4 separate regions of the Homo sapiens genome follow, and all the other regions are linked to region 4. The links come from fine-mapping of genetic effects on gene expression. A gene starts in region 4. Each other region holds a variant in brackets. All regions are shown on one strand. Distances are from middle to middle. Region 1 has its middle 23 kb from the start of COL9A2. Region 2 overlaps SMAP2 (small ArfGAP2). Region 3 has its middle 8.4 kb from the start of SMAP2. Region 4 holds the start of COL9A2 (collagen type IX alpha 2 chain).

Evidence for each region. PIP is the estimated chance that this variant, and not a neighbour inherited with it, causes the effect.
Region 1: its variant is fine-mapped to the expression of COL9A2 in whole blood (TOPMed, PIP above 0.99).
Region 2: its variant is fine-mapped to the expression of COL9A2 in activated CD8 T cells (Schmiedel 2018, PIP 0.95).
Region 3: its variant is fine-mapped to the expression of COL9A2 in whole blood (TOPMed, PIP above 0.99).

The regions. Positions count from the first base shown.
Region 1 is chr1:40,335,930-40,344,035 of GRCh38, reverse strand. No RefSeq gene overlaps it. Among named protein-coding and RNA genes, the nearest start is that of COL9A2, 23 kb to the right of the region's middle. The variant T/C (reference allele first, on the strand shown) is at 3,934.
Region 2 is chr1:40,400,357-40,408,462 of GRCh38, reverse strand. SMAP2 (small ArfGAP2) reads right to left here. Exons shown (of 10, transcript NM_022733.3): 2 at 1,594-1,727. Among named protein-coding and RNA genes, the nearest start is that of SMAP2, 31 kb to the right of the region's middle. The variant G/A (reference allele first, on the strand shown) is at 3,590.
Region 3 is chr1:40,361,237-40,369,342 of GRCh38, reverse strand. It overlaps a transcript of SMAP2 not described here. Among named protein-coding and RNA genes, the nearest start is that of SMAP2, 8.4 kb to the left of the region's middle. The variant G/A (reference allele first, on the strand shown) is at 3,634.
Region 4 is chr1:40,313,519-40,321,624 of GRCh38, reverse strand. It overlaps COL9A2 (collagen type IX alpha 2 chain), which reads left to right and starts at 4,339. Exons shown (of 32, transcript NM_001852.4): 1 at 4,339-4,502; 2 at 5,961-6,035; 3 at 7,238-7,273; 4 at 7,358-7,420. The coding sequence starts at 4,428. RefSeq lists enhancers at 4,208-4,844, 4,845-5,481, 6,265-6,524 and silencers at 4,655-5,164, 5,925-6,024, 6,035-6,094.

The DNA.
Region 1 (8,106 bases), 22 kb before region 4:
GGGGGCAGAAATATGACCCCCCAAAGATGACCACATACGAATCCCTGGAACCTATGGATATGCTACTTTACATGGCAAAGGAGATTTTGCAGGTGTTGTTAAGAATTTTGAGATGAGGTGTTTATCCTGGATTAACTAGATGGGCCCAATGTAATCACAAAGGTCCTTTAAAGTGGAAGGTAGGGACAGAAGAGAGAGGCAAAGGAGATTTTACTGTGGAAGAGTGGTCAAGGAGATGTCACATTGCTAACTTTGAAGATGGAGGAAGGGAGCCACAAGCCAAGGAATGCAGAAAGCCTCTAGAAAAGAGAAAAGGAAAGGAAATAGACTCTTCCCTAGAGCCTCAGGAAAGGGGTGCAGCCCTGCTCACGTCTTGATTTTAGCCCCGTGTCATTCGGACTTCTTACCTACTGAGCTAGAAGTAACAAATTTGTATTGTGTTTTTTTTGTTTGTTTGTTTGGTTGGGGTTTTTTTGTTTTGTTTTTTGTTTTTTTTTGAGACGGAGTCTCGCTCTATTACCAGGCTGGAGTGCAGTGGCGTGATCTCGGCTCACTGCAACCTCCGCCTCCCGGGTTCAAGCGATTCTCCTGCTTCAGCCTCCCAAGTAGCTGGGATTACAGGCACCCACCACCATGCCCAGCTAATTTTTGTATATTTAGTAGAGACGAGGTTTCAACATGTTGGCCAGGATGGTCTCGATCTCTTGACCTTGTGATCCACCTGCCTTGGCCTCCCAAAGTGCCGGGATTACAGGTGTGAGCCACCATTCCTGGCCAGAAATTTGTATTGTTTTAAGCCACTACATTTGTGGTAATTTCTTACAGGAGTAACAGAAAACGAATACAGATTATGTTACTGCTGTAACAAATACCTAAACATGTAGAAGTGGTTTTGGAACTGAACTTTGGGAGGAGGCAGGAAAAACACTGAGGAGCATGATGGGAAAAGCCTGTATGGCCTTGATCAGACTGCTGGGAGAAATGTGAATGCTAACAGCTTGGACAGTGAGGACTCTGGAATCAGTAATGAGCAGAGTCAAGAAAATATCAACCAATTTAGAGAACATGAACGGACTTGGAAGAAATATGGCTGTTAAAGGTGCTATGGGTGACGGCTGAGAAAGAAATGGGGAATATGTTAGGGGAAACTGGAGGAAAGAGGATCCTTGGTACATAGTGACAAAAAGCTTATCCAGTTCCTTGAAGTTATATGAAACACAGAATTTATAAACAATGAACTTGAGGCCGGGCAAGGTGGCTCATGCCTGTAATCCCAGCACTTTGGGAGGCTGAGGCGGGTGGATCACCTGAGGTCAGGAGCTCAAGACTAGCCTGGCCAACATGGAGAAACCCCATCTCTACTAAAAATACAAAATTAGCTAGGCGTGGTGGCAGGAACCTGTAGTTCCAGCTACTAGAGAGGCTAAGGCAGGAGAGTTGCTTGAACCCCAGAGGTGGAGGTTGCAGTGAGCCGAGATCGTGCCACTGCACTCCAACCTGGGTGACAGAGTGGGGCCCTGTCTCAAAAAGAAAACAACAACAACAAAAAAACAATGAAATTGGGTAGTTAGCTAAGGAGATTTCCAGGCAGTGTTGAAGGGTGTGGTCTGGTTTCTTCTTGCTGCTTACAGTAAAATGTGAGAGGAAACAGATAATTTGAGAGAAATGTTTAACAAAAAATGAAACAGAACTTGATGATTGGGGGAATTCTCAGCCTATTCAGATGCAAAAGACGTTAAAATGATGAAATTCACTGTCAGGAAAGTGTGCTTTAGAGAAAAAGCCAAGAACGTGGCTGGACAACCTTTTGCTAATACCTCAGAAAGATCAAAAGGTCAGAGTATCAGGCCTGTAATCCCAGCACTTTAGGAGGTTGAGAAGGGAGGATCGCTGGAGCCCAGGAGCTCAAGGTCAGCTTGAGGAAACATAGGGAGACCTCATTTCTACAGATAACAACAACAACAACAACAACAACAACAAAAATTAGCTGGGTAGGTGGTGCTTGCCTGTAGTCTCAGCTATTTGGGAGACTGAGGTGGGAGGATTGTTTGAGCCTGGAGAGTCAAGGCTGCAGTGAACTGTGGTTGCACCACTGAATTCCAGCCTGGGCAATAGAGCAAGACACTGTCAAAAAAAAAAAAAAGTTCAGAGTATTCTGTCACATAAGAGGTTTTTTGAAGAGATTAAGTGTGAGACTCATATATCCCCTCAGCTACCTCAACAGAAGACAGAAATAGAAACGGGCTTATCAAGCGAAGATCTGCAAAGGAGCATTTTGTCTAATGGAGTGACATACATGAGAGATCCACGGGGTTCTTGAGAATTTTATACCAGCAGAAACACTTGAGCTTGGACTGTACAGGATAGAGAGGGTATGAAATGAAAGAAGGCTATAAGATCCCCCAAATTCTACAGGCAGGAAACAAGTTGATAAAACCACCCAGCTGCAGCCATGTGCTGAACCTTTCATGAAAAAGGAAGAATGACTAAGAGGACAGAGCTGTGATCCCAGAGGGCAGAGCTTTGAGCTGCAAAGTATTATTTCCAGGCTTTGAAACCTAATGGAGTTTGTCTAACTTAATTTTGAAATTGCTTGGGACTAGTGACTCCTCTATTTCTTCCTTTCTCTCTTTTTACATGGGAATGTCTATTAGTGTTATCCTATGCTAGACCCAGTATCGTATTTTGGAAGCAGAAGCTTATTTTCTAGTTTCACACGTCCACAGGTGGAGAGAAACTTTGCCCCAGGATAGATTATGCTGAGTCTCATCCAAAACCTAATTTAGATAATATCCATGATAAATCTGAAACTCTTGAGCTAATGAGATTTAAATGAGACTTTGAACTTTGAGTTGATACTTTAATGGGCTGAGATTTTTAGGGACCTTGGAATAAGGTGAATGCATTTTGTTCGTGAGACAGGTATGAATACTGGGGCCAGAGAATGGTCTGTGGTAGGCAGAATAATGATCTACCAAAGATGCCTCCAGAACCTGTGAATCTGTTACATTACATGGCAAAAAGGGACTTTGAAGAATTGATTAAATTAAGGATTATGAGACAGGGAGATTATCCTACATTACCTAATAGGCCCAATATAATCACAAGGTCCTTAAAAGTGGAAAGGGGGCCGGGCGTGGTGGCTCATGCCTGTAGTCCCAGCACTTTGGGAGGCTGACGCAGGCAGATCACTTGAGGTCAGGAGTTCAAGACCAGCTTGGCCAACACGGTGAAACCCCGTCTCTACTAAAAATACAAAATTATCCAGACGTGGTGGCAAGCACCTGTAATCCCAGCTACTCAGGAGGCTGAGGCAGGGGAATCACTTGAACCTGGGAGGCGGAGGTTGCAGTGAGGCGAGATCACACCATTGTACTTCAGCCTGGGCAACAAGAGTGAAACTCCATCAAAAAAAAAAAAAAAAGTGGAAGGGGAAGACAGAAGAGAGAAGCACAGGGAGATTTTACTATAGTATGGTCAGTAAGATGTAACTTTGTTGGTTTTGAAGATGGAGGAAGGGGAAACCAAGAAATGTGGGAAGCCTCTAGAAGGTGGGAAAGGCTGGGCAATGAGTTATCTCCTTGAGCCTCCAGAAAGGAACACAGAGGAAAAACAATGGAGCAAAACTGGAAGCAAGGAGTTAAAATAAGAGGCAGTTGCAATACCCCCAAGCAAAAGAGGATGGTATGCTGAATAAGGTAGGTGCAGTGGGGATGGAGAGAGGTGGATGGATTAAACACCTATGAGGTATAGTCACTGGGACAAGGCGATAATATTTCTCGGGGAGGAGAGAGGGAAGTCTCTTCTCCAGGATGACATCCATAGTTTTGGCTTATGCAATAGGGCAGAGGGTGGGACCACTGGCTGTGTAGGCCACACAGGAAGAGGAACAGGTTTGTGGGCAAGAAGATAATTTCATTTGGGACATGTCAG[T/C]TTGGTGGTGCCTGTGGAACATCTGAGAAGCAGTTGGATAAGCAGGTCTGAGACTCAGGAAAACATATAGGCAGCAGTTAAAGTCAACCCGATGGATAAGATGGCCCAGGAAGAGTATAAAGAATAAGAAGATAGGACAGGACCTTGTAGAGTGCTAAGTAAGGGTGTGCAGAGAAAAGAAATCTGCAAGGGGCCTGAGAAAGAACAGCTGGAGAGGTAGGAGGAAAGCCAGGAGAGTGTAGTTCATGTAAGCGGACACTAAAGCTTATCAGTGTTGGACCAGCACTGGGAAGGAATCAGATGGAACAAGTGGGAGGTCAGATGAAACCAGGGTCAGGATTGGCAATTCTGAGGAGTTTGGAGTTGCTCTGTTCTAGCTGGAGAGAGAAGCACCTGTGGGAAGCTGATGGTTGGTATTTTCTGCCAGGCATAAGAGGGCAGCCAGAGGCCAGGTGAGCAAACCTGTTTAGCACTCTGGCTCAGCCCAGAATGGGCAGCTGTTTCCAGGAAGGGGTTCTAGGTCGTCTCACTGTGCTGTAATTAAGAGACTCAGCCCCTGCCCCAACTTGCTCCACGGGACTGACCAGCTGTGTTTGCTCTTCTCTAGCAGGGAAGGGGGATCATCTGTCACCTACTCTGTTTTCTGAACATTCATCCCACTCCCTGCCTTTCTTACAAAGTTCCTTCTGCCAATTAACCGGGTGTGGTGGCGGGCGCCTGTATTCCCAGCTACTTGGGAGGCTGAGGCAGAAGAATCGCTTGAAACCGGAAGGCAGAGGTTGCAGTGAGCAGACATTGCGACACTGCACTCCAGCCTGGGCGAAAGAGCGAAACTACATCTCAAACAAACAAAACGAAGTTCCCTTCTGCCGAAAACAAATATCCAAAGCGTTCTGGGCACTGTGCTAAGTACTTCATGGTCATCAAGAGACACTATTCTCCCCATCTCACAAATGAGGAAACTGAGGCTTAAAGAGATGAAATGACTTGCCCAAGGTCACAGTCAGTATGTGGTAGAACCAGGATCCAAGTCTAGCTGAATCCAAATTCTAAGTTCTAACTCCCCAGAAACCACGACTGCTCCCTCGCTGGGTTCCCACAGTGCTTTATCTGCCTCTATGCCCGTTTCATCTCGCTAGCAGCTCCTGGAGAAAGGGGCTTTTAATTCGTCTTGTCAAGCTGTCATCATGGTGTGCTGCCGCAGAGGACCACTAGGTGCCGCCAGAGCACCAGCCAGCCTGATTTACTGCTCACCTGGAGTCGGTCTAAAGGAGCAACTGGTGGGGAAGGGAGCTGGGCCTTTTCTTCCTGCCCTGCAGCCCACCTCTCCTTCCTATCGGAGGTGGGAAGAAACGACTGGAAGATTGGAAGGTTAGAAATTAGAGATTTGGCCGGGCGTCGTGGCTCACGCCGGTAATCCCAACACTTTGGGAGGCAGAGGCAGGTGGATCACATGAGGCCTGGAGTTCGAGATCAGCCTGGCCAACAGGGTGAAACCCCGTCTCTACTAAAAATACAAAAATTAGCCGGGCGTGGTGGTGCACATCTATAATCCCAGCTGCTCAGGAGGCTGAGGCAGGAGCTGAGGTTTGAACCCACGAGGCAGAGGTTGCACTGAGTCGAGATGGCGCCACTGCACCCCAGCCTGGGCAACAGTCAGAGCTGGTCTCAAAAAATAAATAAATAAATAAATAAATTTAGAGATCTGAGGAGTGTAAACTGGAGCAGCCCAGGGCTCAAGTCAAACAGAAGATCCTAAGAGTTCTCTAAGAAAGCTAGAACCAGCAAAATAAAATATTGCGGCAAACATCTCCAGGCTGGGTCTCAGCCCCACTCCTCTGTCCTCCCTTTTTGTGCAGATCCTAAAATGCACAACCCTATGCTGTGGCTGTAGTGGAAAGTGGGGAAAATGTATGTTACTGAGACCTATCCAGAGCTAGAAACTGTGGGAAAACAGGTGTGTGTCCTTGGGGAAATCACTTCACACCTCTAAGCTTCAGTCTTCTTGTAAATAAAATGAGGATAGGCCCAGCACAGTGGCTCACGCCTGTAATCCCAGCACTTTGGGAGGCCAAGGTGGGAGGATCGCTTGAGCCCAGGAGTTCAAGACCAGCCTGGACAACATAGTGAGACCTCTTCTCTATTAAAAATAAATAAATAAATAAAATGAGGATAATCAAGGGACCTACCTCGTTGAGCGGTTGTGAGGAGTTAAAGACAAAATGCATGTACCACACTGATACAATATCTGTCATATAGCAAGTGCTTAATAAATATTGTTATAAACACAATAATTATGATAATATAAATATTTAAATGATAAGCATTATTGTTGTATTTGTCAGGATTCTCCAGAGAAACAGAACCAATAGGATATATATAGATAACGTAAGAGGAAATTTATTACGGGCGTTGGCTCATGCGATTACAAAGGCCAAGAAGTCCAATGATAAACTGTCTGCAAGCTGAGAACCAGGAAAGCCGGTAGCGTAATTTAGTCCCCAGTGGAAGGCCTGAGAGTGGGGTTGGGGAGGGAAACCGGTTCAAGAACCAGGAGCTCCGATGTCCAAGGGGAGGAGAAAATAGATGTCCCAGCTCAAGGACAGAGAGAATTCACCCTTCCTCTGCCTTTTTATTCAAGCCCTCAATGGACTGGATGCTGCCCACTCACATAGATGAAGGTGGATCTTCTTTGCTCTCAGTCTACTGATTCAAACGTTAACTCTTCCAGAAACACCCTCAAAGGCACACCCAGAAATAATGTTCTACCAGCTAATATCCCTTAGTCCAGTCAAGATGACACGTAAAATCAGTACACAAAATTAACAGTCACTGCTGGGCGTGGTGGCTCACGCCTGTAATCCCAAAACTTTGGGAGGCTGAGGCGGGAGGATCACCTGAGTTCAGGAGTTCGAGACCAGCCTGGCCAACATGGTGAAACCCTGTCTCTATGAAAAATACAAAAAAATTAGCCAGGCATGGTGGCGGGTGCCTGTAATTCCAGCTACTCTGGAGGCTGTGGCAGGAGAATTGCTTGAACCCAGGAGGCAGAGGTTGCAGTGAGCCGAGATCACACCACTGCACTCCAGCCTGGGCAACAGAGTGAGACTCCATCTCAAAAAACATTATAAGCAAATCAAAGAAAATTGAGGACTACCAGATTATAATTTCTGACCCATTATCTTTCACCCAACTTGGTCTTGAACAACTAGTAGCTATTTCTCAAATCCAATCCACCTTCAAGGTTTAACAAACAAATAAAAATATGTTCACACACCTTCAAAATAATCTGATAGAAGTTCTGAAGATAGGCTGGGTGAGGTTCACACTTGTAATCCCAGCACTTTGGGAGGCCGAGGCAGGCAGATCACGAGGTCAGAGGATCCAGATCATCCTGGCTAACAGGATGAAACTCCATCACTACTAAAAATACAAAAAATTAGCTGGGCTTGGTGGCACACAGCTGTAGTCCCAGATACTCGGGAGGCTGAGGCAGGAGAATCGCTTGAACCCGGGAGGCAGAGGTTGCAGTGAGCCGAGATCGTGCCATTGCACTCCAGCCTGGGCAACAAAAGCAAGACACCGTCTCAAAAAAAAAAAATTAATGATCACCATTAATAATAAGTGGTAGTTCTCGGCCGGGCGCAGTGGCTCACGCTTCTAATCCCAACACTTTGGGAGGCCGAGGCGGGTGGATCACCTGAGATCAGGAGTTCAAGACCAGCCTGGCCAACATGGTGAAACCCCATCTCTACTAAAAATACAAAAATTATCCAGGCGTAGTGGTGCAGGCCTGTAGTCCCAGCTACTTGGGAAGCTAAGGCAGAGAATCGCTTGAACCCAGGAGACCGAGGTTGCAGTGAGCTGAGATCGTGCCATTGCCCTCCAGCCTGGGCAACAGAGTGAGATTTGGTTCCAAATAATGAAAATAATAATAATAATAATAATAATAATAATAATAATAATAAATGGTAGTTCTTAGCTGCTGCCTTCATGATGACATCATTTAATTATCTTCTCACACTACAGGCCTGACACATAACGTCCTCAACAAATATTTGTAGGATAAAAAAATAAAAATAGTTTTCACTCATGTTCTCTGTGTTAATCCAGCTTGTTGATCCTGGAGAGACTTTCTGGATGTGGTGTCTTTAAGGATCAACAGGAGTTTGC
Region 2 (8,106 bases), 87 kb before region 4:
CCCAAGCTGTCTTTCCCCCACTCCATAGGTTCCTTTTACTGAAATATTTGTGTACCAAGATACATTCAATTCAGTAATAAATCAAGATCTCATTTGAAACTCTTAGATACACAGCTACCAATTAAAATGTCTACTTGGCAGGCAATGATCAGTGTTATCATTCTGAGTTTATACTATTAATCAATTCCAATAAATGTGTTTCCCATTAGGCTTTTAAGTAGACTCCTTAACACTTGTGAGGGATAAATCCCAAGAGCTTTTTAAATCTCCAAATTCCCGACTATCTCCATGGCATATAATTTCCTTCATAAAACAGAGTGAAGTGTAACTGAAAAATGTAACTCACCTTTTTAGACCTTTAATACATCTATAAATACAATCTAAAGCAATTTCTAAAGCCATTTTCTGGTTAAGCGTAACCTCTGATTTCCATTACCAACTTTAGCAACTGGATTTGGGGGGCGGGGGGCTTCCCTTTTACTCCCAAGAAAGAAAAAATTGAAATTAAAGCGTTTCAATGTAGGAAGAGAATAAAAAATAATGAAGCTATATCAAGGTACAGCTCTTAGGCCAGCCAGACTCATTAACTTAGGAGTCTCACTCCAAGCCCACCAAGCTAACAGCATGCAAGATTCATGTATGCATTCCAGCTGTTACAGCTTTTTAAAGATGATAACAATAAATCTAATATACACATTGTCCTATTTAATATACTTTTAAGGTTAATTATGTTTAAATTTATTTAAAATTTTTGAAATTTTAAATGTTATCTAATTCCACATTTGTATGTGTCTAAAAATATCAGAAATGATGAGTTTACAAAAATGGATACATTTTAATATTATGTACCATTAAAATATTTTCTCTGTCTTAAAAAAAAGATTCATGTATGCATTTTAGTAATAAAATTTTCCCATAAGTCTATGATTTGGAGGTTTTTTTAAAAAGTGAATTTTTATTTATTTATTTTTTTGAGACAGGGTCTCACTCTATTGCTCAGGCTAGAGTGCAATGGCATGATCATGACTAACCGCAGCTTCAACTTCTGGGCTCAAGCAATCCTCCCACCTCAGCTTCCCAAACTGCTGGGATTACAGGTACGTACCACCAGGCCCAGCTAATTTTTTAATTCTTTATTTTGTAGAGACAGGTGTCTCACTCTGTTGCCCAGGCTGGTCTTGAACTCCTAGACTCAAGAGATCCACCCACCTCGGCCTTACAAAGTGCTGGGATTACAGGCATGAGCCACCGTGCCCGACCAAAAGTGAATATTTGAAACTATAAATTTTAGACCTGCAAATGCTAAGAGTCTTAGAAAATCACCCAAAGATCCCTCTTAATACTTTCGTGGGCCCATGGAATCCTAGACCGTAGACTATTTCTGTTTTTAAGGAGGTAAAATATAGGTAGAATAACTTGTATCTTAAATAGAAAGAATAAAAATTTCTGTTAGGGTACAAGAATCTGATGTTAAGTGTTTAACAACTAAATTTTCCTTTATCTTCACCTTTGTGCCAGGTTTGACTGAAATTCATCTGGAATTCCTTTTACATAGATATATGGAAGCAGCTGACTCACTCTTGGGCTAAGTACCTGAATCTGTTCTTGAGTCCACTGGTCGAGGTTAACTGACTTTACCCTGGATATGTGCACCCCCAGATTCCTGTGGATTCCAGCACATCGAATGCAGATGAACACACCAATGTTCCAAGAGGCCCATCGCGGCCCTGTGAAAGTCAGGAACAGGGCAATAAAGTACAAATTACAACATTCAAGGCCTAAACTACAATATTAGATTATCAGACATTTCTGCTAGAACATAAGTGAAATAATTTTTACCATAACCACCTGTTTATTGACTCTGCTCATTCCTCCATGTGTCAGCTTTTCTTTAGTTTAAATTTAAGTGTACAATACAGTGGTTTTTAATATATTCACACAGTTGTGCAATGATTACTACTATCTAATTCCAGAACATTTTCATTAGTCCAAAAGAAATCACAAACCCATTAGCAGGCACTACCCATTTTCTCCCAGCTCTTCCTCCCAGCCCCTGGCAACTATGAATCTACTTTTTATCTCTATGGATTGCCAATTCTGGGCATTTAATATAAAAAGAATTATATAATAAGTGGGCATTTGTGCATGGTACAATTTTTTTACAGTGTCTGCTAATATGAGTGTTGAAACGCAGATGTTATAAGACTGTTACTTATATTAAGAAAAATCCCAGGAGTGCAAAGCCATGTCATATTCTATTTGGCCGAGCACCTTACATAAACAGTCCTCTCCCAAGAGACGTTTTAGTGGTGATGGGCCTGTATTCACCACTTTTTAGTGGTGGCCTGTATTCGGTTTTCCTACCAGGAAAAAAGATAGATATGGCATGCTTGTCCATGGCTCAACCTGTAATTGAAACTGTGTTTATCTTCCCCCCAACCCCAGGCCTATAAAATATGCATTCGCATTAACTTAATAGGATCTTTTCCCCTTAGGCTGATGTTCCTACTTTACTCAACTACTGAAGTATCTTGTTTCAAGATTGCCAAATAATAAAGATGCTTATAGCAACAAAAAAGAAATCTCAAATATGAATTTTAATTCAAAACTGTTACAGAATCTCCCATCCCCTGCCAGTGTTACTCATCCTAATAATCACTCTGAAAAATTATCATACTCCTCTTCATAATTTTTACCCAGGAAAGAAAAATGACTTATATGAAACCTGCCAAAAACTTACTAAAAAATCAGAAATACTTCCTTCTCCATTATCCCACTTGGCAGAAATTTACCACATAAAATAAGTGTGATATAAAAATTAGAGGATGCAATAAAGAGGTGAAAAGACACTGATTTTCTACAGAGATAAACAGGGCCTACGCTTGGAACGACAACGAGCACAAGACTTCAGTTCTTTAGGACACAGACAATTATTTGGTTAGCTAGCAGGTTTTTAATTTTTTAATTTTTATTTTTAGAGGCAGTCTCGCTGTCACCCGGACAGGGAGTGCTGTGGCACGATCATAGCTCACTGCAGCCTCGTCTTCCTGGGCTCAAGCGATCCTCCTGCCTCAGCCTCTGGAGTAGCTGGGACTATAGGCGTGTGCCACCCTGCCTGGCTAATATTTTTATTTACTGTAGAGACTAGGTCTCACTATGTTGCCCAGGCTGGTCTTGAACTCCTGTCCTCAAACAATTCTCCCACTTTGGCCTCCCGAAGTGCTGGGATTACAGGTGTGAGCCATTGTGCCTGGCCAGCCTGAAGGTTTTGACAGCAGTTTTAATGAAGGAATGCTAGAATTGTGTGGCAGAAAATTAGTTTTAGAAATTTGAATTCATGATTATTACAAATAAGAATGTAATTTTTTGACAAAGATATCACTTATTTACTATCGCAAATACTGCAACAGAAGGCTCACATTCTCCTTATTACCACCAGGTGGTGCTCTCCGCCTGAAATTTTATCCCAATACCTTATTGCTATCACAAGCTCCGATTTACCTTCTAAAAAGATATTTAGTCCCTTCACATTCCTAGATGGATTTACATAGTTGGTCCGCCATGTATCTAATAAACACAAAAATGATTC[G/A]CACACTTGTTTCATGTGGGAGAGTGTCACGTCAAACACAAAATGAAAACCCTAAACTGATGTAAATGGGGTTTCTTAACATGTGGTATATCCATTTTAGGTTACAGTTTTCATAAAGGAACTCCAATAAGATCTAAGTTATATAAGATTTAAAATGGCACCAAGTTAATATTTCATGTTTCTTAAAGCACTTTTCCTTTGCTCTAGATTCCAGAGTCTAGAACTCATAAGACAAGTTAAGATGTATTTGTTTGCTAACAAAGTCAGAAGCCAAACACATTCATTAAAAATTAAAAGTCAGCTGTGAAATGTTACACTGTTTGCTTCCTGGCCTTAAGATGGGAAAAGGCAATTCCCAATCATCTAAGCCACTGTCACAGCTCCCACTCCAGCGTACTTAAAGTCTTTTTGCTTCTGAGGAATGCAAGGCTAAGACTTGGAGCCTTGGGGTGACTCTGAAGCCACTGACAAGGCCTCAGTACAGAAATACAGGCAACTGTATTTTCATGAAAAGCCAAAGAACAGCCTCTTCTCCCCACCAAATCCCTACCTGACATCCCTTGTGAAACCTTTTCCCAGTGAATATAGTGATAGTTATATCCCAGATACTCAATCTCTTTTAGTTTTGAGCCACTAGATTTATTAGTGAATAACTACATGTTCCATAAAATATTCTGAAATTAGAGAAAAGAAAAATAAAAGAGACAAATGTTACTTATATGGCTGAAAACATGGGGAAATGGTGTAGTTACTTTTATTTCATTTTATTCTTTACAGACAGGGTCTCTCACTCTGTTGCCCAGGCTGGAATGCAGAGGCAAGATCATGGTTCACTGTAACCTCAAACTCCTCGCCTCAAGCGATTCTCCCACCTCAGCCTCCCATGTAGCTGGGACTACAGGCATGCAACACCATGCCCAGCTAATTTTTTAATTTTTTTAAAGACAAGGTCTCCCTATGTTGCTTAGGCTGGTTGTGAACTCCTGGCCTCAAGGAATCCTCTCGCCTCAGCCTCCCAAAGCACTGGGATTACAGGTGGGAGCAACCACACTCTGCCAGTTGTAGGACTTAGGTTTGAGCACAGCTCCTTCAGTGATTACCTGTGTGACCTTCTGAGAGATACTTACATTTCCTGAGCCTTAGTTTCCTCATCTATAAAACGTGTACAATAGCATTCACCTCACAGTGCCCTAGAACACAGAGGGACAATAACTGAGGACTATATATAAGGATGTGGTATAGAATAAGGTTTCCAGAACCCACTTCCCATCCATCTTCCTGATAAGGGCCAGTTAACTCATTCATATATGTAATATATACCAACACTCTATGCAACACCACGGAGTGCTTCTTTTTATTTTATTTTTTTGAGACAGAGTCTCGCTCTGTCGTCCAGGCTGGAGTGCAGCGGCGTGATTTTGGCTCACTGCAACCTCCGTCTCCTAGGTGCAAGCAACTCTCGTGCCTCAGCTTCCCGAGTAGCTGGGACTATAGGCGCGTGCTACCACACCCCACTAATTTTTGTATTTTAGTAGAGACGGGGTTTCGCCTTGTTGGCCAGGCTGGTCTCAAACTCCAGACCTCTGGTGATGTACCCGCCTTGGCCTCTCAAAGGCCTGGGATTACAGGCGTGAGCCACCGCGCTCAGCCAGAGTGCTTCTTTTTTAAAAAGGAATATGAGTTCTGGTCCTAAAATATCAGAACCAAAATGAACTGAATACAGAGAGAAGAAATTTACCCTAGACCCAATTTCAAAGTCTTCTAGGCAACATGAAAATTTAAGCAGCTTCCTTTATTTCTCTTAAAATATTTCTTGAAAATGCACTTTTTAAACCCTCACCTGTTCCCTTTCTCTGCTACACACCCCCACCCTGCCCTTGTGCTTGCATATGCCCCCACTACACAGGCAAAGAAAGAAGGCCCAAGGCTGTCAACCTAAGTGGTGGGTACTTGGATTCCACAGTACCTGGTATTGCTGCTATAAGGCCAGCCTACTTTAATCTGGTAAACTTGCAAAAATGCAAGTGAAACCAATTGTTTCACTTAACATAATGACCTCCAATTCCATCCATGTTGCTGCAAATGTTAGTGAGTTAAAAAATAGTGGATCTCATGAAGAGAGAGTAAATCGGTGTTCTAGAAGCCAGGAAGGGTAGGCGGATGGAGGAAGAAATGAGGTTGATTAATGGGTACAAAAATACAGTTAGTCAGCCTGGCCAACACGGTGAAACCCCATCTCTACTAAAAATACAAAAAATTAGCCAGGCATGGTGGCACGTGCCTGTAATCCCAGCTACTGGGGAGGCTGAGGCAGGAGAATTGCTTGAATCCAGGAGTCAGAGGTTGCAATGAGCCGAGATCACACCACTGCACTCCAGCCTAGATGACAGCGAGACCTTGTCTCAAAAAAAAAACAAAAATACAAAAATACAGTTAGAAGAAATAAGATCTAGTGTTCAATAAATCAGTACAGTGACTATAGTAAATAATAATCTACCATATATCTCAAAATAGGTAGAAGAGAATAATTCAAATATTCCCAGCATAAAGAAAAGATAAATGTCTAAGGTGACGGATATAGCATTATCATGATTTGGTTATTACACATTATGTGAATGTATCAAAATATCACTTGTACCCTGAAAACATGTACATCTATTATGTATCAATAAAAAGAGATAAACCAATTGTTTAATACACATTGGTCATGGCAATCAAGGAAAAAAATATAAAAGATGCCATTTTGAAATTTAAAATGAAAAGAAATGCTGAGAGGCAATATGCCAAACAATTTTGAAAGCAAAGAGGATAGACAAGTGATGTAAACTGGTAGTGATCGGCACAACACAAGAACAAGGTCACACATAAGTGCACATATTCAACAGGAGCCTAAGAGCAGGCGTGGGCAGCATCAAGCAATACTAAAACTAACATAGAATCACTCTGCAATAAGGGATCAGGGAAAATGAAAAAAGTAGATGGAGATGGATTTGGTTGATCAGTCAAGAAATCAACTGTCCTAAGTACCAGTTCAGTATCGGAAAAATCTGGGTTTACACGGACCTGTTGCATGTATTTTGACAAGTTTCTCTAGGGCTTATGTCTCCATTTGTAAAATGAAAAGCATATACGTAATATCCAACTTATATTCAACATCTGGACAGCTTCTACATACGGAGTAACTACTGCTGCAAATTCCTCTTGCTGCTGAAACTTCCCCCACCACCAAAGCTGCCAGGATTAGAGGGGCTCTGGGATTGACAACTCAGCAGACAGAAAAGGGGAACTAGCGTGATGGAGGACTTCAAGCTACTACTAATATTATAATAATTATATCATTGAGTTCTAATCTATGGAGTTCCAAACAAATAAATATTGAGGAGGAAAAAACATTGATAAATTGATGGCTACCTATATTTAGACCTGCTGGCATAACGGACCTGTCAAAAAGTTCAACGGGCAGGCTACGCGAAGGGAGAGAACTTTCCCATCTTCCATCCAAATCCTGTGGAATCTATCTTGGAAACTTTTCCAGAATCTATCCATTTCTACCTAGACCTCATGTCTCACCTATAAGCATTCGTTCTTTTTTGTGTGTGTTTGTTTGTTTTGAGACGGAATCTCGCTCTGTCACCCAGGCTGGAGTGCAGTGGCGCGATCTCGGCTCACTGCAAGTTCCGCCTCCCGAGTTCACGCCATTCTCCTGCCTCAGCCTCCCGAGTAGCTGAGACTACAGGCGCCCGCGATCACGCCCGGCTAATTTTGTTTTTGTATTTTTAGTAGAGACGGGGTTTCACCTTGGTAGCCAGGATGGTCTCGATCTCCTGACCTAGTGATCCGCCCTTCTCGGCCTCCCAGAGTGCTGGGATTACAGGTGTGAGCCACCGCGCCCAACCAGCATTGGTTCTCTTAACATTATTTATTGTGTACCTATGTGCCAAGCAATTTGCCTGCTAAGTACTGGGGATACAAAGGCAGAGAAAATAAGGATGAGATTCCTCAATTCAAAAAGCTCACAGACTAACAAGCAATTAGTCTCCAGAATCCCACCACCAGAATAATCTTTCTAAAACACAAATCTGTACAGATCACACCTCTAAATATAAACCTTCCATGTAGTCTCATACACAAAGGTAAATATGTAAATTGGTGCACATTTTCTGAATAGCATATTCCAAACTAAGCTCTCAATCTCTTGCTACAAAATCTCTTCCTTTTTTCTTCATCTTAGTCAACTACACCTCCATCCATTCCATTGCGTCAGTCAGAAAATTATGCATCATGAAACCTCTCTCCTTCAGCCCCCACATCACCAAGACAAAAATATCTGTCAAATCAGTATCTCTTCTCTCCATCTGTATCACTATTTCTGTAATCTAAAGCCACCAGACTCTTTCGGACCACTGCAATAACCTCCTAATAGCTCTCTCTCCACTTTTACATTCTCTTCTCCCTTGAGCCCAAACCAAAACCATTCTCCACCAAACAGCCAACTTGAGCTCTTAAAGAAGCAAAGC
Region 3 (8,106 bases), 48 kb before region 4:
AATTCTGTGAAGAAAGTCATTGGTAGCTTGATGGGGATGGCATTGAATCTGTAAATTACCTTGGGCAGTATGGCCATTTTCACAATATTGATTCTTCCTACCCATGAGCATGGAATGTTCTTCCATTTGTTTGTATCCTCTTTTATTTCCTTGAGCAGTGGTTTGTAGTTCTCCTTGAAGAGGTCCTTCACATCCCTTGTAAGTTGGATTCCTAGGTATTTTATTCTCTTTGAAGCAATTGTGAATGGGAGTTCACTCATGATTTGGCTCTCTGTTTGTCTGTTGTTGGTGTATAAGAATGCTTGTGATTTTTGTACATTGATTTTGTATCCTGAGACTTTGCTGAAGTTGCTTATCAGCTTAAGGAGATTTTGGGCTGAGACAATGGGGTTTTCTAGATATACAATCATGTCATCTGCAAACAGGGACAATTTGACTTCCTCTTTTCCTAATTGAATACCCTTTATTTCCTTCTCCTGCCTAATTGCCCTGGCCAGAACTTCCAACACTATGTTGAATAGGAGTGGTGAGAGAGGGCATCCCTGTCTTGTGCCAGTTTTCAAAGGGAATGCTTCCAGTTTTTGCCCATTCAGTATGATATTGGCTATGGGTTTGTCATAGATAGCTCTTATTATTTTGAAATACGTCCCATCAATACCTAATTTATTGAGAGTTTTTAGCATGAAGGGTTGTTGAATTTTGTCAAAGGCTTTTTCTGCATCTATTGAGATAATCATGTGGTTTTTGTCTTTGGTTCTGTTTATATGCTGGATTACATTTATTGATTTGCGTATATTGAACCAGCCTTGCATCCCAGGGATGAAGCCCACTTGATCATGGTGGATAAGCTTTTTGATGTGCTGCTGGATTCGGTTTGCCAGTATTTTATTGAGGATTTTTGCATCAATGTTCATCAAGGATATTGGTCTAAAATTCTCTTTTTTTGTTGTGTCTCTGCCCGGCTTTGGTATCAGAATGATGCTGGCCTCATAAAATGAGTTAGGGAGGATTCCCTCTTTTTCTATTGATTGGAATAGTTTCAGAAGGAATGGTACCAGTTCCTCCTTGTACCTCTGGTAGAATTCGGCTGTGAATCCATCTAGTCCTGGACTCTTTTTGGTTGGTAAGCTATTGATTATTGCCACAATTTCAGCTCCTGTTATTGGTCTATTAAGAGATTCAACTTCTTCCTGGTTTAGTCTTGGGAGAGTGTATGTGTCGAGGAATTTATCCATTTCTTCTAGATTTTCTAGTTTATTTGCGTAGAGGTGTTTGTAGTATTCTCTGATGGTAGTTTGTATTTCTGTGGGATCGGTGGTGCTATCCCCTTTATCATTTTTTATTGTGTCTATTTGATTCTTCTCTCTTTTTTTCTTTATTAGTCTTGCTAGCGGTCTATCAATTTTGTTGATCCTTTCAAAAAACCAGCTCCTGGATTCACTGATTTTTTGAAGGGTTTTTTGTGTCTCTATTTTCTTCAGTTCTGCTCTGATTTTAGTTATTTCTTGCCTTCTGCTAGCTTTTGAATGTGTTTGCTCTTGCTTTCTAGTTCTTTTAATTGTGATGTTAGGGTGTCAATTTTGGATCTTTCCTGCTTTCTCTTGTGGGCATTTAGTGCTAAAAATTTCCCTCTACACACTGCTTTGAATGCATCCCAGAGATTCTGGTATGTTGTGTCTTTGTTCTCGTTGGTTTCAAAGAACATCTTTATTTCTGCCTTCATTTCGTTATGTACCCAGTAGTCATTCAGGAGCAGGTTGTTCAGTTTCCATGTAGTTGAGCGGCTTTGAGTGAGATTCTTAATCCTGAGTTCTAGTTTGATTGCACTGTGGTCTGAGAGATAGTTTGTTATAATTTCTGTTCTTTTACATTTGCTGAGGAGAGCTTTACTTCCAAGTATGTGGTCAATTTTGGAATAGGTGTGGTGTGGTGCTGAAAAAAATGTATATTCTGTTGATTTGGGGTGGAGAGTTCTGTAGATGTCTATTAGGTCCGCTTGGTGCAGAGCTGAGTTCAATTCCTGGGTATCCTTGTTGACTTTCTGTCTCGTTGATCTGTCTAATGTTGACAGTGGGGTGTTAAAGTCTCCCATTATTATTGTGTGGGAGTCTAAGTCTCTTTGTAGGTCACTCAGGACTTGCTTTATGAATCTGGGTGCTCCTGTATTGGGTGCATATATATTTAGGATAGTTAGCTCTTCTTGTTGAATTGATCCCTTTACCATTATGTAATGGCCTTCTTTGTCTCTTTTGATCTTTGTTGGTTTAAAGTCTGTTTTATCAGAGACTAGGATTGCAACCCCTGCCTTTTTTTGTTTTCCATTTGCTTGGTAGATCTTCCTCCATCCTTTTATTTTGAGCCTATGTGTGTCTCTGCACGTGAGATGGGTTTCCTGAATACAGCACACTGATGGGTCTTGACTCTTTATCCAATTTGCCAGTCTGTGTCTTTTAATTGGAGCATTTAGTCCATTTACATTTAAAGTTAATATTGTTATGTGTGAATTTGATCCTGTCATTATGATGTTAGCTGGTGATTTTGCTCGTTAGTTGATGCAGTTTCTTCCTAGTCTCGATGGTCTTTACATTTTGGCATGATTTTGCAGTGGCTGGTACGGGTTGTTCCTTTCCATGTTTAGCGCTTCCTTCAGGAGCTCTTTTAGGGCAGGTCTGGTGGTGACAAAATCTCTCAGCATTTGCTTGTCTGTAAAGTATTTTATTTCTCCTTCACTTATGAAGCTTAGCTTGGCTGGATATGAAATTCTGGGTTGAAAATTCTTTTCTTTAAGAATGTTGAATATTGGCCCCCACTCTCTTCTGGCTTGTAGGGTTTCTGCTGAGAGATCCGCTGTTAGTCTGATGGGCTTCCCTTTGAGGGTAACCCGACCTTTCTCTCTGGCTGCCCTTAACATTTTTTCCTTCATTTCAACTTTGGTGAATCTGACAATTATGTGTCTTGGAGTTGCTCTTCTCGAGGAGTATCTTTGTGGCGTTCTCTGTATTTCCTGAATCTGAACGTTGGCCTGCCTTGCTAAATTGGGGAAGTTCTCCTGGATAATATCCTGCAGAGTGTTTTCCAACTTGGTTCCATTCTCCCCATCACTTTCAGGTACACCAATCAGATGTAGATTTGGTCTTTTCACATAGTCCCATATTTCTTGGAGGCTTTGCTCATTTCTTTTTACTCTTCTTTCTCTAAACTTCCCTTCTCGCTTCATTTCATTCATTTCATCTTCCATTGCTGACACCCTTTCTTCCAGTTGATCGCATCGGCTCCTGAGGCTTCTGCATTCTTCACGTAGTTCTCGAGCCTTGGTTTTCAGCTCCATCAGCTCCTTTAAGCACTTCTCTGTATTGGTTATTCTAGTTATACATTCTTCTAAATTTTTTTCAAAGTTTTCAACTTCTTTGCCTTTGGTTTGAATGTCCTCCCGTAGCTCAGAGTAATTTGATCGTCTGAAGCCTTCTTCTCTCAGCTCGTCAAAGTCATTCTCCATCCAGCTTTGTTCTGTTGCTGGTGAGGAGCTGCGTTCCTTTGGAGGAGGAGAGGCGCTCTGATTTTTGGAGCTTCCAGTTTTTCTGTTCTGTTTTTTCCCCATCTTTGTGGTTTTATCTACTTTTGGTCTGTGATGAT[G/A]GTGATGTACAGATGGGTTTTTGGTGTGGATGTCCTTTCTGTTTGTTAGTTTTCCTTCTAACAGACAGGACCCTCAGCTGCAGGTCTCAGATGGAAATGCAGAAATCACCGGTCTTCTGCGTCGGTCACGCTGGGAGCTGTAGACCGGAGCTGTTCCTATTCGGCCATCTTGGCTCCTCCCCGAATGTATCCAGTTATAGAATTTTCTATCTGTCCCAGTGGCCACTGAGCATAGTTTGGTTGCACTGTATCTAATGGATTTCAGAAAATTGGAATGAATTGAAGAATCCTGATACCACATTTCATACTCAGCTTCCAGATAATTTCTCTTTATTGTTTTTATTTTGTTTTGTTTTGCTTTGGTGGCAGTAGAATTTATTAGAATGTGCCTTTTAAAAATTATTTGAAATAGAGATGGAGTCTTGCTTTGTTGCTCAGGATGGTCTTGAATTCATAGCCTAAAATGATCCTCACACCTTGGCCTCCCAAAGTGCTGAGGTTACAGGCATGAGCCTAGAATGTGGCTTAATACAGGCACGTGGGCTTGCCCACGGTGCTCTCAGTATATAAAGCTTGAATGTCTTGGCAATTTTTCTTGAGTAATGACACTAGGAAGTTGACAGCCAGGTGAATGTTATGTACAAGCTCATCGTCTGTCATCTTCACATGGCCAACAGCCACAGCCAGACATAGCACCTTCTTCATCTGAAACTGGGTTGTGGACTTCACCTCATCCACTTTGGCCACCATGTTTTTGTTGTGTGTCAGCAGGGGAGGGAACTTACCCACCTTATTTAGGCCTGGGCCAAGGATTCATGGGATCTGCTTGATCAGAGACTCTGAGGCTAAAAAGACATTATACTTTTTGACAGCTGTTTGACCGATTATTATTCTTATTGAGCTTTTCAGCACCTTGATGTCCCTGTGGAGGATATCCACAGCCTTGAGCCATTTTTTTTTTTTTTGGAGACAGGGTCTCACTTTGTCATCCAGGCTGGAGTGCAGAGGCTCGAACATAGCTCACTGCAACCTCGACTTCCCAGGCTCAAGCAGTCCTCCCACCTCAGCCTCCTGAGTAGCTGGGACTACAGGCGTACATCACCATGTCCAGCTAATTTTGTGTATTTTTTGTAGAGACAGGGTTTCACCATGTTGCCCAGGTTGGTCCTGAGCTCCTGGAATCAAGCGATCCTCCTGCCTTGGCCTCCCAAAGTGCTGGGATTACAGGCATGAATCACTGTGCCTGGCCCATCTTATTTTTCTTTAATAAATTATTTTCTGTTTGTAGAAATAGGATCTGGCTATGTTGCCCAGGCTGTCTCAAACTCCTGGCCTCAAACAATCCTCTCCACTCAGCCTCTCAAAGTGCTGGGATTACAGGTGTGAGCCACCTTGCTTGCCCTCTTTTTTTTCTTTAAATCAGAGTATTTTGAAACCCCAACTCACATAAATAAGGACAAAATAAAAACCACTATACTAGAGAAGCCACAGTAATAAAATGCCCAGATTACTACCAAGAAAGAGGTATGGTGAACATTTTTGGACTATTGCCACAGGAAACTCTCATTAGTGTATCTTATAGCTAAGAGATCAAAATCTCTTAAGCCATATGTTAATCAGTTTCTGATTCACTGGCCAGTCACTTTACCTATACCAGATAACACTCATAGAATGACCTGTTCATTTAGAAAGCTGGATAATTATGCTCCCTGTTTTACTATGAGCTCAGTGTTATTTGTCACATGCAAATGAGCTTGGTGAGACTAAGCTTAGTGAGCTTCGTGATTCCCCTCTGGCTACAGCTGGTCTAAATGCTGCCTCTGGGGGCACCAGCTGAGTTCTGCCCAGGGTTGCTTTCCACTGTGACAAGGCAGCACTGAGTTCTAATGTAAAGTCCCACAATCACTGCACTCTCCTTCCCCCAAGCACACCAGTTCTCTCTCTGATCCACACGGCTGCTGGTGGGGAAGGGGTTAGTGGCATCAGCAATTCAAGACTGTCTTTTGTACTCTCTTCAGTGTCTCTTTCTGTAATATGAAGTTAAAACCAGGTACTGTGATTACTCACTGTATTTTTGGTTCATATGAAGGTGATTTTTTGTGTGGATAGTTGTTCAATTTGGTGTTCCTGTGGGGAGGACAATTGGTGAGGTCTTCTATTTTTGGCCATCTTGCTCTGCCTTCCTAGATATTAGATTTTTTTTTTTAAGTTTTAAATCAAAGTAAAAACATGCACATAGTTTTAAAAGTCAAGTAATTATACAAGGCTTATAATGACAAACAGTAATCCTCTGCCCCATCTCTGCCCACACTGGTCCCTACTCCTCTGAGACAACCATTTTCAACTCTTATAGTTGTTTCTTCTACAATTTATGTATTGCCCAAATAACATGTTTCTATCACCATGATTTACCTTCCCAGCTTTGCTTATTCACTTCCTGCTATGGAAGATGAAGATTTAGATTTCTTTATATATACTCCCCCAGACTTCCTTTCCCACATTTTCCTAGTATAGTTAAATGACAATATTTTGTTAAATTAATGCTCAATATTTATAATATTATGACTTAATATTATTGACAGTTGTGCTTTGTATTCATTGATTGCATTTTTTTCCTGGTTAAACTTTTTGTTTTTCCTGGAGTCAATAATTGCTCCACTTTGGAGTGCTTAATTTTCTATGAACCTATGATTAATTCATCTCCTAATACTCTGACAGAAGAGAATTTCCTCTTAGTGAGTTCTAACACATCAGCTAAGCTATAAATTTCATTATTCTTGGCGCTGTCCATCCTGAAGCTTCTGCCCTGCTGCTCCAAGCTGGAGGAGGCCTGCTGCTATGTAATCATCACCCTGGAATTCCCCTTCACTATCATCCTGGGAATAGCCTTCCTCTTTTTCCTGTGTTGAATGCTCTATTTTCTGGATTTGGTGCTTACGAGGGACAGAGCAAGTATAACTGACCAAGGCCTACTCCAAGAACTCTGTAGTGTAATGATAGGAAATTGCCCCACACCAGAGCATATCAATGTGAAATGGCAGAACACTGGGGGAAAAGGCAAGATCTGAAGTTTCCAGAGAGGAAAAACAAATCACATGAAAAAGAATCAGGAATGAGAATAGCATGGAGTTCTCAACAGTAGCACTGGAAGCCAGGAGACAATGAAACTTTGCCTCCAAAATTCTGAGAAAAAAAAGAGTTGCCAACCCAGAATTCTGTACCACCCAAACTACTATTCTAGAGGCAGTGTTGAATAAAGACAGTTTCACATACCATAGATTTCAAAATCTTGCCTCCTGCGCTGGCTGTGTTCCATTGGCTTCCACATCCTCTCTCAGCCCTTCAACTGGCTCTGAGGTCTAAGAGACAACTTTGATAGATGGCATCAACCTGGCTTCTCTGCACACCAGCTTTTGGTTGTGTTCAACCAATGGGAAGAACAGTGGGAAATCAGAGGGCAAGAGGAGAGAGAAGTCGAGTTATTTATTTTCTCTGCTTTCTCCCTACTGGCAGAGCTACTGCCCCCCTCCAGTGACAGTCAAAGTGTCTGCGACAGTGGCCCTCTTGACTGTGATGGTGGCCCTCTCCTACAGCGAGGGCTCACATCACATTCTGGTCATACTCTCTCCCCTGGCCTCTTCAGGCTTTGAGGGCAACAGCCATCTGCACTTGCTCGCCCCAAGATACATCATGCCCTTGGTTGATTTTCTTTCACCCTTCCCACACTTTACAAAATGGTCCCTTCTTTAAACGCTCCTCACTGGCCTCTTTTGCATTGGCCACAGGCTTCCTATTGGAATCCTAACCAGTTTATCTCCCATGCACACTTTGTCAAAAATGACAGCACAATCAAGCCGGGAGTCAGAAGCCTTAGGAATCAACCTGTTGCTCTATTCTATAGCAGCTGAGCTGGCACCCAAGCCACAAGACAAAGTCCTTCCCCCTCTTCCTTTCCCTTTGCTCAAGCAGAGGAGTCTCTCCCTGTGGCCACCAGTGCCCCAGGCCCACGGAAAGTACTCCCTGGCTTCTGCTGATGTTCATTCAAAGCCTAAGGGCTCTTTGGTCAGCTTGTGGTGAATGCTGCGAGGTGTGGGACTCTCCCTTCAGGGCAGTGGGCTCCCCTCTGGCCCAGGGAAGGTCCAGAAATGCCATCTAAGAGCTAAGGTCTGGAATTGGGGACCTCAAGGGCCCACTTGGTCAATCTGGTACCTAAGCTGCAGGACAAAGTTCCCTTTACTCTTCCTTCTCCTTTTTCAAGCAGAAGGAGTCCATTCCTGCAGCCACCACAGCTGGGAATGTGCTGGGTCACACATTAAGCCAGCACATCTCTGAGTCTCACCCAAGGCCCATGGTGAGTCCTGCCTGGGTACTGCTGCTGATCATTCGGGGCCCAAGTGCTCTTGAGTGAACAAGTGAAGAATCCTGCCAGGACTGGGTTCTTCCCTTCAAGGCAGTGGGTTCCCTTCTGACCCA
Region 4 (8,106 bases):
TGATCCTTCCACCTCAGCCTCCCAAGTAGCTGGGAGACACCACTACACCCTGCTAATTTTTTTTTTTTTTTTTGTAGAGAAAGGGGTCTCACTGTGTTGCCCCAGCTGGTCTTGAACTCCTAGCCTCAAGTGATTCTCCTGCCTGAGCTTTCAAGAGTACTGAGATTACAGGTATGAGCCACCACACCTGGCCAACATGGAGTTTTCTTATACAGAAATGTAGATATATGACTCTCCACTTATTCAGGGTCTCCCTGTGCTTTAAGAGTCCTATGCAAGAAGTACCTACTGAGGAGGCTGAAGTGGGAGGATCACTTGAGCCTTGGAGGTCAAGGCTGCAGTGAGCTAAGATTGTGCCACTGCACTCCAGCCTGTTTCCAAAAACAAACAAACACCCATATGCAATTGGCTGGAACCTCCAGTCCATGTCTTGTGGTCCAAAGCCTTCCCTAAAATTTATATATATATATATATATATATATATATATATATATATATATAATTTTTTTTTTTTTTTTTTTTAGACAGAGTTTCACTCTTGTTGCCCAGGCTGGAGTGCAGTGGCGTGCTTTCAGCTCACCGCTACCTCCACCTCCCAGGTTCAAGCTATTCTCCTGCCTCAGCCTTCCTGAGTAGCTGGGATTACAGGCATGCACCACCATGCCCGGCTAATTTTGTATTTTTAGTAGAGATGGGGTTTCTCCATATTAGTCAGGCTGGTCTCAAACTCCCGACCTCAGATGATCTGCCTGCCTCGGCCTCCTAAAGTGCTGGGATTACAGGCGTGAGCCACCTTGCCTGGCCTAAAATTTATCTTGATTGGCTCCAGCTTTAAGCTTCAGCTACCACTGGATTGGTTCAGTTTATAACCCCAAGTGTGGCAGGATGTATTTTCCAAAGATGGTTGCATCAATAATAAAAATTGCATCCCCAGGCTGGGTGCAGTGGCCCACACCTGTAATCCCAGCACTTTGGGAGTCCAAGGCAGAAGGATTGTTTGAGCCCAGGAGTTCAAGACAACCTGGGAAACATGACAAGACCCTGTGTCTACAAAATATAAAAAATTAGCTGGGTGCATGGCTGGGTGCAGTCGCTCACGCCTGTAATCCTAGCACTTTGGGAGGCCGAGGTGGGCAGATCACTTGAGGTCAGGAGTTGGAGACCAGCCTGGCCAATGTGGTGAAACCCTGTCTCTACTAAAAATACAAAAATTAGCCAGGCATGGTGGCAGGCGCCTGTAATCCCAGCTACTCGGGAGGCTGAGGTAAGAGAATTGCTTGAACCCGGGAGATGGAGGTTGCAGTGAGCCGAGATCACACCACTGCACTCCAGCCTGGGCAACAGAGCAAGACTCTGTCTCAAAGTAAAATAAAATAAAATAAAAAATTAGCTGGGTGCAGCGGTGCATGCCTGTAGTCCCAGCTACTCAGGAGGCTGAAGTGGGAGGATCAGGAGCCCAGGAACTTGAGGCTACAGTGAGTGGTGATTCCTCCATTGCACTTCAGCCTAGGTGACAGAGGGAGACCTTGTCTCAAAAGTAAGAAAGAAAGAAAGACATAAATAAATAAATTTTATCCCTTATTCTCTTCTTAAAATGTGACACTGGCTGGGCGCGGTGGCTCATGCCTGTAATCCCAGCACTTTGGGAAGACAAAGCGGGCAGATCACGAGGCGGGCGGATCATGAGGTCAGGAGTTCGAGACCAGCCTGACCAACATGATGAAACCTCATCTCTACTAAAAAGACAAAAATTAGCCGGGAGTGGTGGCGTACGCCTGTAATCCCAGCTACTCCAGAGGTTGGGGCAGGAGAATCGTTTGAATCCAGGAGGCGGAGGTTGCAGTGAGCTGAGATTGCGCCACTGCACTCCAGCCTGGGTGACAGGGCAAGACTCCATCTCAAAAAAAAAATTAAAAAATGTGACATTAACATTCATCCTTGAGGTGGGGTCTCTGTTCCCTCCCCTTGATCATGGGCAGACCTTTGCAATTGCCTCAACAGTAAGAATGTGGTGAAGGTGCCACTGCATGACTTCCAAGGACGGGTCCTGAGTGGCAATTCTCTTCAGTCTGGTGCTCTCCTACTCCCTCTGAGCTGCTATAGAGGATGTTCAGCTACCTTGAAGCTGCCATGTTGGAGAAACTTCATGGAAAGCCCACAAAGAGATAAAGGAGAGAACTGTCCAAGCAACTCCAGCTGTTCCGGCCCCAGCGGTTGAAGGCTTCCCAGTACTGACATCAGACATGTGAGTGAAGAAGCCTTCTAGGTGACATCAGGCCCAGCCACCATCTGACTATGACCTTATAACAGACCCCAGGCCAGACCGAACCAGCAGAGTCACTCTCAAATTCCTAATCCAAAGAAATTGTCATTTTAAGCTGCTGAATGTTAGGGTGATTTGTTATGGTGCAACAGGTAATTAATACATCAATGTGTGCTGTCCAGACTGTGAAACTCATCCTCTTTCCATAATTTCCACACACAAAAAGAAAACTTACTCACACAAGGCCTTTCTTGTGGTTAGCCCACAAAAGATGGAGAGATAAGTGATGTGAAACAAACAACTTAAAATTGAATTTGGACATCCCAGTTCTAAAAATCCTTTATAGGTTTACCCCACCCACCCCAAGCAATGCCCACCATCCCTCTCTTACATCCTCCTCCTCTTGCTCTCATCTTCCAACAAACTTCAAATTCTTCTTCACTCTGTTAGGCAGAGCAATTACATTCTCTCAAGCTCTTTCTCCCAAACTCAGCTCCAGGACAACCTTTCAAAATCCAGAGCCCTTTGCTAACCTGCCCAATGGAGTTGGACTTTTCTAGCTTCAACTAGGTTCATCATTTTAGCTGATCTGCCTGTGGCCAGCTTCCCCACATTGGATGCCAACCTAGTAAAACAGTCATCCATAAATCATAAGGAAAGCTAAAATGTATCAAGCACCTACTATGTGCTGGTTCGAGGTTAAATGCCTCGCATGAGTCATCTCATTCAATTTCCACAAAAACCCTTTAAGATAAGGACAATTTGCTGGGCACGGTGGCTCATGCCTGTAATCCCAACACTTTGGGAGGCTGAGGCAGGCAGATCACCTGAAGTCAGGAGTTCAAGAGCAGTCTGGCCAACATGGCGAAACCCCATCTCTACTAAAAATATAAAAATTAGCCAGGCATTGTGGCTCATGCCTGTAATTCCAGCTACTCGAGAGGCTGAGGCAGGGGAATCATTTGAACCCGCGAGGCGAGGTTGCAGTTAGCTGACATCGTGCCACTGCACTCCAGAGCCTTTTAAGACTCTGTCTTAAAAAAAAAATATATATATATATATATATGGACTATTAGTATCCCCATTTTACAGATGAGGAAAATGAGACTTCATAGAGTTTGGGGTGCCTGTGGTCATATCTATAATTGTGAAAAAGTCAGATTCCAAAGCATTTTACCAATATTGCCTAAGTGAGTGGGAGGGAAGGGAAGGCTCTCTGGAGTCGGGCTATGCTGGACAGCGGGGTTCGGAAACTCTGGTGAATAAAGTGGTAGTTGTTTCTATGAACATGGAGTGAGAAGGCCCAATCCTAAACACACCAGTGCTTAAGGCAGCTGCAGAGAATTAAAGGCAATAGAAAAAGGGGAGCTGGATGGCAGGAGCTTGGATGGGGAAGACTTCAAGGGCAGGTGAAGATGCCAACAGCTTCCTGCCTGGAGGACCGAAGAAGGGTTGGGCTTCACTGCAGACCTCCAGGAGACAGATTTGCTTGTTGGGACAGAGTAGGGAGGTGAAAGCGAGGTGAGGAAGTTCGGGGGTGGGGGAGGTGCACACAGCTCCACTAAAGAGCTGGAAGAGGCCGATGGAGTATTCATGAGACGGCTGATCCAGGAAGGACTGTGGCATATTAATATGGAAAAGGCCTGTTTGTTTGTGCTTGGAGAGGAAGGAGCCAGAGGAGAGGGGAGCAAGGTGGGCGGGAGCTGGGGAGAGCCTGCAGCAAGATCTGCAGAGCCCGAGGTGCTCTCGGCCTGGGCCCTGGAGAGGACGTAGGGTAAGTGATGGGGCACAGGCTGTGCGTCAGGGGGAAGGTGCTGGGGCCTGAAGGTCCCGAGGGGAACCTCAGACGGCCTTATGCCTTCTCACAAAGAAACTGGACCATCATCTCCGACCCGCACCCCGGTCGCCCCTCGAGGACAGAGGGTGGGCGCAGGAGGCTGGACCGAGCGGGGCGGAGCTGGATGCCTGGCGCCGGCCTCCCTCCCGGCAACCCCGCCGGTCCTCTCAGGTGACAGCTCACGCCGGCCCCCGCCCCGCCCCCCGCATATTCAGGAGCCCCAGCCCACCCTGCCCGCGAACAGCCAGCGCTGGAGGAGCGCCGGGAGACTCTGCCGTCGGTGCGTGCGCGGACACGCACCCGTCCCCCTTGGTCTCGCCGCCAGCCATGGCCGCCGCTACGGCCTCCCCCCGCAGCCTCCTTGTTCTCCTCCAGGTGGTAGTGCTCGCTCTGGCGCAGATTGTAAGTTTCGCAGCCCCTCCGCTGCCAGGGTCCAGGGTGCGGGGTCTGGAGTCCGGGATGGAGGAGCTCTGCCTGTGTCCCGCGCCTACTGACACCCCTAGCCCGAGAGGCCACCTGAGGACAGCGCCGCGGGCAGGTCCCCTCGGTGGGTGCATACATGGTGCCCATCGCGGCACCGTGAATGGAGGTGGCTGAGCCGGAGAGTCAAACGGGACCCGTCCCCAGACGCGCGGCCCGGCCCGGGACAGGCAGCGTGGGGCAGGAGCTGGCGCCCGGTCCTGGCAGCCCGGGGAGCCCAGGTGGCGGGGCATACAATGGTGCTCATTCACCCGCTGCGCAGCCTCCGCCCCCGCCGCCTCCCAGGGGGCGCCGGCTCCAACCAGACGCCGCTGTCGCCCCGAGGCGGCCTCTCGGCCCTGCCCGCCTACCCACGTCTCCCTTCCGAGGGCCGCCGGGGGCTGCGGGCGCGCGGGTAGGGCAGAGACTGGGCCCGGTCGGGTGCTGGGTGTGGTTTCGAGCTCGCCTGCGGGGCGCCAGCCTGGCACTTCGCGGCCTGGGGAGGTCGTGGGCACCGGGACCCCTGCCTGGGTCCGAGCTGGCCTCTTAAAAGGGCCGCCTTTTAAGATCTCTGATCTGTTCAGAGATGGGCAGCAGGATGGAGACTCTCCAGCTGTGAGCTCGCCTCATCTTGATATGACTTGTGACCTCCCTGAAACCTCACACCCACCCAGGGGCATTGAATTGCAGGCAAACGGGATCCAGAGAGAGGGTCTGCTTTCTGGGAGGTGCCGGCTCCTCCTGCTCCCCTGCAGCAGTCAGGGCTTAGCAGAGGGAGGACCGGGCAGCTGTGCTGCCGAAGGGGCGCTCCGAGTGGGAAGATAGTACCCGCTTCACCTCCCTACACCTCCTTTCTCTGCGCCTCCCCCACTTTCCCGTCGGGTTTTCCCGCACCATGGGGAGAGGAGGAGGCGCTGTCTCTGCCTGTCGTTCACGTAAGAACAACAACCCGAGCCACCGCTCACTGAGGGCCGGCAGCCTGCTAGGCACAACCTTACATTCCATCTGTGATTTATTTGAGCTGTCCACGTCTCCATCTATTCCCCACCGCGACCGCGCAAGGGCAAACTGGCACAGTGGAAGGAGTCGGGCAGATCCAGGGCGGACTCCTGGCGCCGCCGCCCACTCTCAGTGACCATGGACCCTTCACGTTCTGAGCCAGTTTCTTCGACTGCAAACTGGGGCCCGTAATAGCGCCCGCCTCCCGGTTCTGAGTATTCTGTAAGATAATGAATGCATGTAATGGCACACAGTGCCTGCTATACAGAAGATTCTCAATACGTGGGAGTTCGCGGAAGAGCTGCGCCCCTAGGACCCCGCTCCCAGGGTCGCTTGCAGCCCCGGGGACGCCCAGCTTCCTGCACTGTCTGAGGACTGCCCCACCCCGTGTGTGTTTTTCAGAGAGGTCCACCGGGAGAGCGGGGCCCCCCGGGTCCCCCGGGACCGCCGGGAGTGCCTGGATCCGACGGCATCGACGTAAGTCTCTAACCTGAGACCAGGGCGGGAGGGAGGCGGCAGACAAAGGAGAACTTTGTGAGCGCTGTGGTGGGGGTGGGGACTTCGGGGTGCCCGGAGATGTAGTGCCCCTCGTCGCCAATAGGCGGCGCCGGCCCGCACCACAAGGACGCCGTTTGTTCTGCAAAAACCTCAAACCAGCCCTGACATGCGGAGCCCGTTATAGCCGCCGACAGACAAGGAGCTGCTGTTCAGTCCGCCGGCCGCAGCTCACAGCGAGGCCTCATCCCCCTCCTCTCCTTTCCCCTCCTTGTGGGGTAGGAGGCGACTCAACCCCTCACCCTGCCTCTGGCACATCTGGACGCTTCTTCAGGTTCGCTTGGGAGCCTTGGCCAGACCACCGACCAGCTTGGGCCAGACTCCTGTCTCTTCCCTTCGGTTTTCTCTCCCCGATTTAGAATCAGCTGGGCTTGTTCCCTGCAGGGTGAGGGTTAAATACCTCATTCTGAAAGCTCCCGCAGGAGGGCCGCTTGATGTTTACCAGTCTGGACAGACTTCTATTCAACCTGGTGCCCCCACCCCCCAAACACAGGATGCTGGGCCCCCGGCCAGGCCCTGGCTGCTGAGGGCTCTGAAATGCCTGGAGGCCTCTCTGGGGCTGAATCGCACTCTACCGGCCCTGCCTGCCCACCACCAAGGGTCCTTTGGCACTGGAAGGAGGTCCTTCCCTCCTTGGGAACACTGAATTTCCCCCTTGCAGTCCCCCTTGGTCCTTGCCACTGGCTCAGCTTCCCGTTCTCCTGCCCTGCAGTCTGGAATAGAGCTGCTGCCCAACTCGCTCATCCCCCTTCACGTTTCTCTAAAAGCCCCAACCTTCCTCCCACACGTGCCCAAATCCAAGAGGCATCAGCTTGGAGCCCCCAGCCCTGGTAGTGGGTCTCACAGCTGGCACCTCATGACATCAGCATGTCTGTACCTTCTTGCATGTTGCTGTCACCCTCTCCAGCCCGGCCAGGGTTATTCTCATGCTCCTGTGATTTGTTTTTGGTTTTTATTTTTGAGGAAAAGGGGGCTCTTTTCCCAAAGATTGCAAGGCTTAGGGGACCTGGACAGAAGAGAGGAGAGTGAGGAGAGCCTTTGGGAGCGGCCTGCCAGGGCCTGTGTGTGCCCACTTGGGGTAGTGTGAGCCGTAGTGTGCTGTCTCACCAACTTGTATCTTGCAGGGTGACAATGGGCCCCCTGGAAAAGCTGGCCCTCCGGTGAGTGCTTTATCCTCTTTGGCCTTTGACCCTTCCTGCTCTTGCCCTCCTCTGGCTCATGTTTGTTCCATCTCTGTTTTCAAGGGACCCAAGGGCGAGCCTGGCAAAGCTGGGCCAGATGGGCCAGACGGGAAGCCCGGGATTGATGTGAGTAGCTGAGTGTCGGGTGGGGCAGGGTAGGGCTCTGCCAATTGACCTCCAGGGCCTGGCTCTGGCATCTTCACTGATCTGTTCAGAGATGGGCAGCAGGATGGAGATTCTCCAGCTGTGAGCCCCCCTCACCTTGATATGACTTGTGACCTTCCTGGAACCTCACTCTCACCCAGGGTCATTGATTTGCAGGCAACCGGGGTCCAGAGAGAGGGTCTGCTTTCTGGGAGGTGCAGGTTCCTCCTGCTACCCCTCAGCAGTCAGGACTTAGTCTCACATTTCTGGCCTCCAAGGATCAGGCTGAATATGTTGGGTGGGGCTGTCCTTGTGTGCCCTGTCCTTTCCTCCGCTCTTCCCCTGACCCCTACCCACAGCCCCAGGCATGACTCAGGAGAGAAACATCATTTAGCTGATACCACAGAGCTCCCAGGGGGCCCCCAAGGTCACAGGCTCTTGAACACAGCCAGCCCCAGGGGCATGAGGACAACATCTGATGGGGGTTACACTGGGTCAGTCACTGAAAGATGGGAGAAAGGAGAAACCCCCATGACTTGCCTCTGCCCTGCTGGCTCATGAGGTGTGACCAGGGCTGGGACAGTCACCAGGACCCCTTCAAACTCATCCACACCCTGCAACGATTACAAGGCATATTGCCTTCTATGTTGCATCAGTTCTCACATCCA